Linked DNA regions of Homo sapiens. The protein of the gene in region 2 interacts with the protein of the main gene of each other region in a pairwise test. Each region holds a gene or a part of one and is shown on either strand. Other genes may lie near its edges.

Evidence for each region. The genes of interacting proteins can lie anywhere in the genome.
Region 1: the proteins of SDHB (region 2) and XRN1 interact in a two-hybrid assay, tested with the Homo sapiens proteins (one large-scale study listed by BioGRID).

What each region holds. Positions count from the first base shown.
Region 1 is NC_000003.12:142,308,292-142,312,959, forward strand, and holds part of XRN1 (5'-3' exoribonuclease 1), read right to left. Parts: intron 4,468-4,668; coding exon 4,307-4,467; intron 3,523-4,306; coding exon 3,220-3,522; 3' UTR 1-3,219. UniProt on the Homo sapiens protein: Major 5'-3' exoribonuclease involved in mRNA decay. Required for the 5'-3'-processing of the G4 tetraplex-containing DNA and RNA substrates. The kinetic of hydrolysis is faster for G4 RNA tetraplex than for G4 DNA tetraplex and monomeric RNA tetraplex.
Region 2 is NC_000001.11:17,019,065-17,023,173, forward strand, and holds part of SDHB (succinate dehydrogenase [ubiquinone] iron-sulfur subunit, mitochondrial isoform 1 precursor), read right to left. Parts: intron 3,667-4,109; coding exon 3,544-3,666; intron 1-3,543. UniProt on the Homo sapiens protein: Iron-sulfur protein (IP) subunit of the succinate dehydrogenase complex (mitochondrial respiratory chain complex II), responsible for transferring electrons from succinate to ubiquinone (coenzyme Q).

The sequences.
Region 1 (4,668 bases), on a different chromosome or scaffold from region 2:
CCTCTCTCTGCCTCCTCTCATTAAAACCAAGAATCTAGCTTAGTTTGGAAGTAGCAGTCTAAAATGAAAGCAGGTACCTGATCATAGAAAGAAACAATAAAAAAACTTGCATCAATAGTTCTTCATTCCTCCACCAATCGGGAAAAAAACCCTTCAATCTTTATTAGTTACCCCTTTGAAAAGCAAGAAAAATCTTAAATTGAAACCAAGGTTCAGTAGAGGTGACTTTAATTTTTTTCTGCAACTACAACTGAGTCTTAGATGTTTAAGACTTTAGTCTACATGATGTTTAAATCAATTAATACATTCAAATTCTAACGCTGAGGTAATTATTAGGTAATGCAGGAAAATGTGAAAAGGAACGAGACTGGAAGGAGCAATCTTCAAAATTCACTTAAGTTGCTCAAAAAAGAAAAAACTTATTGAATAGAAATATTTAGAAATAATGTTTCAGTTAGGAGACAAAGGCTTAAATAGATTGAAGTGCTCTAGTTATGTGGAAGCATAAAGCAATTTGGGGAATCTGTCCTATGCCCTAAACAGTCCACCATTTTCACAAAAAGTCCTCAGAAGATTCAAGTTGAATGAGCATATTTTTAAACTTTGGGGGTGGTCTTAGTCCACCCCATCTCAAAGAGAGAATTTTAAATTTCTTGAAGTCCAACTGCTTTTCAGATATACTCTAAATTCCAGGTCTATCAACAGATTGTTTCCTCAACATGGGGCAGAAATGGCCTCTGCTTCTTACATCCTCCATAGGGAGGGCACATCTCCCATTGACCTCAGGCCCACATTTAGAATGGGTCTACAGGGGGAAAAGAATAGAGAATGCCTGACCACTATCCAGCCATTATGGAGCTCTCTCCTATCTTAATCTCTTCTCAGTTTTGACCTTTAGAATAATAATGTTAAAAAAAAAGTAAGGATAATAAAACTTTTTTCTTTTTTTTGAGACAGAGTCTTGCTCTGCTCTCCAGGCTGGAGTGCAGTGGTGCAATCTCGGCTCACTGCAGACTCTGCCTCGCGGGTTCAAATGATTCTCATGCCTCAGCCTCCCGAGTAGCTGGGACTAAAGGCATGTGCCATCACGCCCGGCTAATTTTTGTATTTTTAGTAGAGACAGGGCTTCATCATGTTGGCCAGGCTTGTCTGGAACTCCGGACCTCAAGTGATCCGCCTGCCTTAGCCTCCCGAAGTGCTGGGATTTGAGCCACTGCGCCTGGCTGGAAAATAAAACTCTTTCACTGCCTATCTGTATAGAACTGTCAGCTTGCTGTGCTCAAATATTGGTCAAGTATCCTTATGGGTTTAGTGCACTATGTCTACTGAAATTTCCCTTTGGAGTTTTCAGAAGATGGCAGGTGCCGCTTCTTCTATGCTCTAAAACAGATGTGAGCTGCATGCTATTTATATAACTGTCACACAGGAGTAATGAGTGAGGCAAATTCTCAATGCTGGAGTTTGTACAGCTGAGGTGAAACATTTCACACTTTAAAGTAGGAAGAGGTTAATATAACATTACTGTCACAATTTAACTTTTCTTTGTATTACCATAATAGATGTTTCCTTTAAAAACAAAGAGAGAGTTTATGAGGCAATAATTATACACATTGAGGATTTACTTGAGCCTCATTACTCAAGATCCCACTACAGATAAAGAAACAATGTTGGGAACTGATAAACATCTGAACTTATGAAAATAACAGAAAATAAAATCATGGAAACTTATACGACTATGATAAATGACAGATAATGAATATTTCTCTCTTATACTGAAGGCACTGCTAATACACAAATATCCTGCTAACATTTAAACTCTGAAATCAGCAGTTAGTGAAAGGAGTCCATTTAGTTTAATACCAGCATTTTAAAAAACAAGTAAGACTACTTTAAGAGTCATGGCAGAGTTTCCAATGAGTTACATGAAAATCAGATATAACAAGCTGCTCCATATAAAGATTGTGGTTCCTACTTTTAAAAAAGTATGCTATAACTTACTTCCTTAAAAATATAAGCATATCACAAAAACTAAAGAATAAATATATATATATATATAAACATAGGCCCTGCTGAGAAATCGTCATAAATTCTAAAATAATTTCAACAGTTACAGCTTGAACCACACATTCACATATGACATGCAAAGAGAGAATCCCAGCATCATTGAACAGTTCAGCATAAAGCTAAAAATATAGAATCAGAATGAAATAGGCAGTAAATAATGTATGTCACAAACTGATGACTGTGCCTCCTATATTGTAGCACACCTTGGAACTTAAACAACAATTAGAATTTCTTCAGTCCCAAGAAGCACTACATACCGACCAACTATGAAGCTCTCATAAAATGTCAGGTAAGCAAATAAAAAGCTATACAAAATAATACAGTTTATTAATTAACATGACTAATATTTCATATTTTATTTTGTTAGAAGATTAATTTGTAATCATTGTACCCTGTAGATTTTGAAACAATTTTACTAGAAATTACTAATGCTGGTTCTTGAGTAACCTAAAAAATTGTATTTACTCAAATTTAGAATGCTATTTATAGTTCTAAGCAGTTAGATGAAATATTCTGATTATTCTAAAGTTGCTTTGGTACAAAATTTAGAATAAAGCAAAACTGGCAGCACCACAACAAATGTGATCCTTTCACAGCAGGTCTAAAGACCCTCAGAGGCAACAAAGCATAAGTTAAAACACACATAAATAAGAGCCATTCTCCTGACAATTTTCTTACATCATTAAAAAGAGAAATAAAATCCACATTCAGTAAGTTATACTGGAGGCCCAAATTTCATGCTCCATGTAATTATTCCTCAATGATAGTGTAAAAAATGCTTATTATTGCTAACTGATGTCTAATTCATAGTTCAGGATGCTTCAATCATGAGGCCAATGATTAGAGTGGTACATTTTAATGTTTAGTCCACTGATACTGTGATATTATTTTAATGCAAGGTTTAATTTAGTTTTTTATTACAGATTTATTGAGGTATAATTGACATACAACAAACTGCACATACTTAAAGTGCACAATTTGATACACAGTCTTTTAAACAGCATGAAAAGTGCCTGATAACTTAAAAATGAAAAAAATTTCAATTTACACATATTATTTTAAAATAGTACATTCTAATTTTTATGAGACATAGATATGTATTTATAAAAAGGTAGATGGAAAGAGAAGAAATTAACTTAATTCTAAGAGCCAAATTTACTCAGAAGGTTTAGAAACACCAAAATTAACAGCCAGTTTTCTTGATTTTCTTCTTGAAGAAGAGATTGGTGTTGACTTATGGTGAGATATACTATGGCCTTGAGAGGCAGTTTCAACTTGAAAAGAAGATGCAGGTTGAGCAATCGGAGAGGACTTCAAAGAAGCTGATGAGCTCTCCCGTGGACTTACTTTGACAATGTTGGAAGAATCTGGCTGGCTAGTCTGAACTGGAGTGGCTTGAGAACTCTGGGCTTCCTTATTCTCAAAGTTCTTTTTGTTTGCAACCCTTTTTTTAGTAACCTGTTAGGAATAAAAGCATCACTAATTAATAATGTAGGCAAAAAATTAGCTAGTGTTGGAAATTACCATAAACCATGCATGCTGTTAATATTTGTCAATCACAGCTGATCTGTGACTTCCACTTATAATTGCCAAGTAAGACTTTAGTAATTCAAAGGACTTAGTTACAAACAAAATATTTAAAATTCTTGGGCTGTGTGCAGTGGCTCACAACTGTAATATCAGCACTTTGGGAGGCCGAGGCAGGTGGATCGGTAGAGACCTAGGGTTCGAGACCATGGCAAAACCCCATCTCTACAAAAAAATTACAAAAACTAGACAGGCATGGTGGCACATGCCTGTAGCCTCAGGTACTCGGGAGTCTAAGATGGGAGGATCACTTGAGCCCAGGAAGTCAAGGCTGCAGGGAGTCGAGATTGTGCATGGGCTGCGTTCCAGCCTGGGCTACAGAGTGAGATCCTTCTCCAAAAAAATGAATAATAATAATAATAATAAAAATACAATTCTTCATAGGTTATTTTGAAAATATTTGTGATTTTATTTATATTACTGATTTTAATCAATCTGTATTAGAATAGCATATTACTTGGTACAATTATTGTTTATTAGAACACAAACTCAGAGAGCAGAGACAGGTCAGACTTGTCAACCATTGCCTTCTTACTACCCACACTAGTACTGAACTTCTAGTTGGCACTGAATAAGTAAACTGAATAAAAAAATGTTTATCAATAGTCTTTCAGCATTAAACAAATAATTATCTTAAAAATATTATTTTTCTTACCTGCAGAGGTATAAACTGATTGTGCACACCCCCTGGTATTCCCCCAGCCATGGGCATGGTCCCAGAATATAAAGTATGATGGAAGGGCTTCCCAGGAACTGGCACCGATGGTCCCCATGGCATTGAGCCAAAGAGATGAGACGACGAAGGCATTATATTAGCTGTTAAAAACCAAGGAAAATTTTTCTTTTAGTAAAATGGTATCATCAAAGCTCTGAAATTTGAGACCTCCTTCTGCTAGCCTTTTTGGGCTTTTTTTTTCCCCTTTGGCAAAAGGCCTACACTTACTTCACCTATAATTACTCTTCCTTACAACATTCAACCTCAGGATCCTTTCCTAGGACTGTGTGGACTATCTACAC
Region 2 (4,109 bases):
AGGTGAATGCAAATCAAGTCCCTCAAAACCATAGGGGTTGGGCTAAGGGCTCTCTTCTGTCTACCTTTTTTAACATTTGAAGATGGTCAGCTCCCTCTGGCAAGAGCTCTGCCACGTTGAATTCCTTCTTGTGTGGCTCACTCTAACAGGTAAACAGGCCCAGGGCAGAGGTGCACTCTCTGACTGCTCAAAGACACTCAGGGTAGTGTCTCTTCTAGGACTACAGGCCAATGTCAAAATCAGCCAGACATCTCTAAATCTTTTACATCATCATTATTAAATAGGCAGCAGCAGAAATCAGCATATACCAGCTCTCAAAAGTATGTGGAAGAAACTACCCTCTCTATTAACCCTTTGTAAAACCATGATGATTTCAACTGGCCAATACCATTGGTATTAGCTGCAGTTTGCCCCTACAGCTGTTAACATCTGCTTTGCAGGAGGCACAATAATTAAACCCACTGAATGCCAGCTTCATTGAAGTAGAAAGTAGGAAGTACTTTACCAAGTACTTGCTTTTACCAAGCAAGTACTTGGTAAAATGAGACAAGTACTCATCTGACGTTAGTGAAGGTTCCCCTCATTTTAGAAGGATAAGTCTACCCCCCTAAAAAAGTGTTGTGGAAAGAAAGAAGAAAAGGAAAGAAAGAAAAGAGATCTTGAGAGAAGAAGAGAAAGAAAAAATATATATTTTTTTGACAGGGTCTTGCTCTGTCATCCAGGCTGAAGTGTGATCATAGTTCACTGTGGCCTGGAACACCTGGCTCAAGTGATCCTCCGGCCTCAGCCTCTCAAGTAACTGAAACTACAGGTGCGTGCCACCACACCTGGCTAATTAAAAAAAATTTTGTTTGTAGAGATGGGATCTCACTATGTTGTCCAGGCTGGTCAAAAAGACACTCTTCATATACCAACATGGGATAATCTCCAAAATATAGTGGGTGAAAAAATACAGATAAATGTGATATAAGAAAGACAGAAGAGGACACATATGCATTTGTGTGCAGCATAAAACACCTCTGAAGTTCACACAAGAATCTGACTTCTAGGGAGGTGGCTGGGTGGAGTGGGAGGGAGAATTTTCACTGTATATCCTTCTGAATCTGGATCTACCTGTGTATTTCCGGTCCCCACAGGGTCAGTAAGGGTGTTTAGACTTAGAAGGTTGGTACATACCCAATCCATGCAGGAAGAAAGAGCACTGGATGGGGAGGCAGACGGCCTAACTCTAGTCCTACCTTCCCACTGACCTGACAGTGATCTGGGGCGAGTCACTCCCCTCCCCACCTGGGGCTCAATTTCCCCATCTGTATAAGGGGATTAAACTTGATGGTTTTCAAGTCCCTTCCAGTTTCATGATCGGCCTATGTCTATGTCTCAGTCCCAACTTCCAGCCCTGTTTTACAGAAGGGAGGGCAAGGCACAGAGAACCTGTTCTTGGCTGTCTCAGTTGTCTGCTGCACCCATCCCCTCCATGCACAGGTTTGTGACCAGGAATGCACCTTAGAGTCACTCGCAGAGCTTCTGAAGAAACACACAGCCAGGCCCCACCACTGAAGATGCTATCTCTGTCTCAAACAAGCCCAGTACTCATGTTTTTTTAAAAAATAACATAAGGTGACATTTATTGGGTGCTTACTATGTGCCAGGCACTGTTCCAAGCACTTTTATAGCATAACTTGCCTCAGAGGTCAGTAGCTATTCACAGGCACAATCATGGTAAACCACAGTCCTGGGGACAGGACCCAGATGGAAGCCCAGGCAATAGGGAGCTGAAGCCTGTGGGCTCCCCCAGCGAGGCCACTGGAAACACAGAGGGTTTCCAGGCAAAAAATAAGTGAATTCTACAGCTTGGATTTCATGTTTTCAAACACACAGTGTGATCTTTTTTTACGGCTAACTGGCCACCCTACAGTTTTCCACCTTGCCGCCCACTGACTCACTGCAACTTTTGAGTGAAATCACCCACAGTCTTTGCTCGGAGGGCAGCCGTGTTCTGAACCACACAGCCCTAGCCCTTCCCTGCCCACTGGGCAAGGCTGACTGGACCAGGGCTGACACCTGCTATGGTTTGAATGTGTCCCCAAAAGCTCATGTGTTGAAAACCTAATCCCCAATGCAACAGTATTGAGAGGTGGGACCTTTAAGAAGTGATTAGATTATGAAGGCTCTGCCCTCACAAATGGATTGCCATTATCATAGGAGTAAGTTCCTGATAAAAGGATGAGTTTGGATTAGTCAGGTGTGGTGGTGTGTGCCTGTAGTCCCAGCTACTCAGGAGGTAGGAGGATCACTTAAGGCCAGCAGTTCCAGGCTGCAGTGAGCTATGATTGCGCCACTGCACCCCAGCCTGGGCAACACAGTGAGACCCTGTCTTTTAAAAAAAACAGATGAGAGGGGCCGGTCGCGGTGGCTCACGCCTGTAATCCCAGCACTTTGGGAGGCCAAGGTGGGTGGATCACCTGAGGTCGGGAGTTCGAGACCAGCCTGACCAACATAGAGAAACCCTATCTCTACTAAAAATACAAAATTAGCCAGGCATGAGTGGTGCCTGCCTGTAATCCCAGCTACTCGGGAGGCGAATGCAGGAGAATCACTTGAACCTGGGAGGCGGAGGTTGTGGTGAGCTGAGATCGATCGTGCCATTGCACTCCAGCCTGGGCAACAAGAGCGAAACTCTGTCTCCAAAAAAAAAAAAGGCTGAGCTTGGGCTCCCTTTCTCTTGCCCTTCTGCCTTTTGCCATGGGGTAATACAGCACGAAGGTTCTTGTTAGATGCTGGCGCCAGCCTCTAGAGCTGTGCGTCAAATAAACTTCTTTATAAAATTACCCAGTCTGAAATTCTGTGATAGTACCACAAAACAGACTGAGACAGAACCTGGCCAAAGGGCAGCCGGTCTGTAGCCAGCTGTGGCCTCTGATGTGCAGGCATGAGAAGGTGAGCTGGGCCAATGCGACACCCTCTCAGGAAACTGTGCTGAGAAGTGCTGGGAGGCAGGCGGGTGGCTGAAGCTGGAAGTGTGCTGGGAGGCAAAATCCAGGCCAGAGTGAGCCAAAAGCAGCAGCAAATGCGAGCAGGAAGAGGAACGAAAGCCAGAGCTTTGAGTCAGAGAAAACCTCCACAGAGCCGAAGGAAAGAACAGGCTGCTAGAGAGCAGAGCAGATTAGCAGCTGACATCGCGAGAAAGATGGAGAAGAAATGAAGTCCTCACAGCTGCCCACGTTCCAACGGCTTTCGCTTTCTGTTTCCTGGGAAGGTTGAACGCAGGTACCTGCTCATGGGTTCCTGTGCATCCTTAACTCCCACAATGTCCCTGTGTAGCCTACAAATAAAGCCTGCTCCTGAGGTGGCCCGAGTCAGTCTACTCCTTGCAACTAAGAGCCAAACTAGCCCCTAGGCTCACACTGAAAGGACAGGCATATGCTGGTCCCTTTCCTTCTCAAATGACTAGGGTTGCTCTCTGCCAATCACCTCTTTGTGAGCACATGCTACTTCTGGCGTGTCAGCTCTGAGGCAGAGCTGAGGGTCACCAGCCCCACGTACCTTAGGACAGGTCCTTGTGCAGTTCATGATGGTGTGGCAGCGGTATAGAGAGAATGGGTCCTGCAGCTTGGCCAGGCGCTCCTCTGTGAAGTCATCTCTGGAGTCAATCATCCAGCGATAGGCCTGGAAAACCAGGGATGATTAGCTGAGCTGCCAATCAACAGGCCAGAGCGGCACCCTGGCTCAACTCAAAGCTCTGGGAGTGCAGAGGAAAGGGAATTCACTCAGCTTAGATGCCTCATCTCCATACTCTTTAATTCTTGTCCATCTTTCAAGGAAAGGTTCCCAACACTTGTAGCTTCACTTGATTAATGGTCCCTGCAAACCTTTGATCCATACTGCACCTGGTACCCGGGTGCTTAATTATACACACTGGGTATCATCTCCTAATTATTTCACATTGCTCAATAGCTTCCTACCCAGCTTATAATTTGGTGAAGGCAGGGACTGTATCATATAACTCTTATCTGTCTTCATGGCACCTACCCATGCTGGACTTGCTGTCTCTGAGTAAAGGAATGATTTAACAGACCTGTCTACAGATAGTATTTGTCCCACTTAATGAT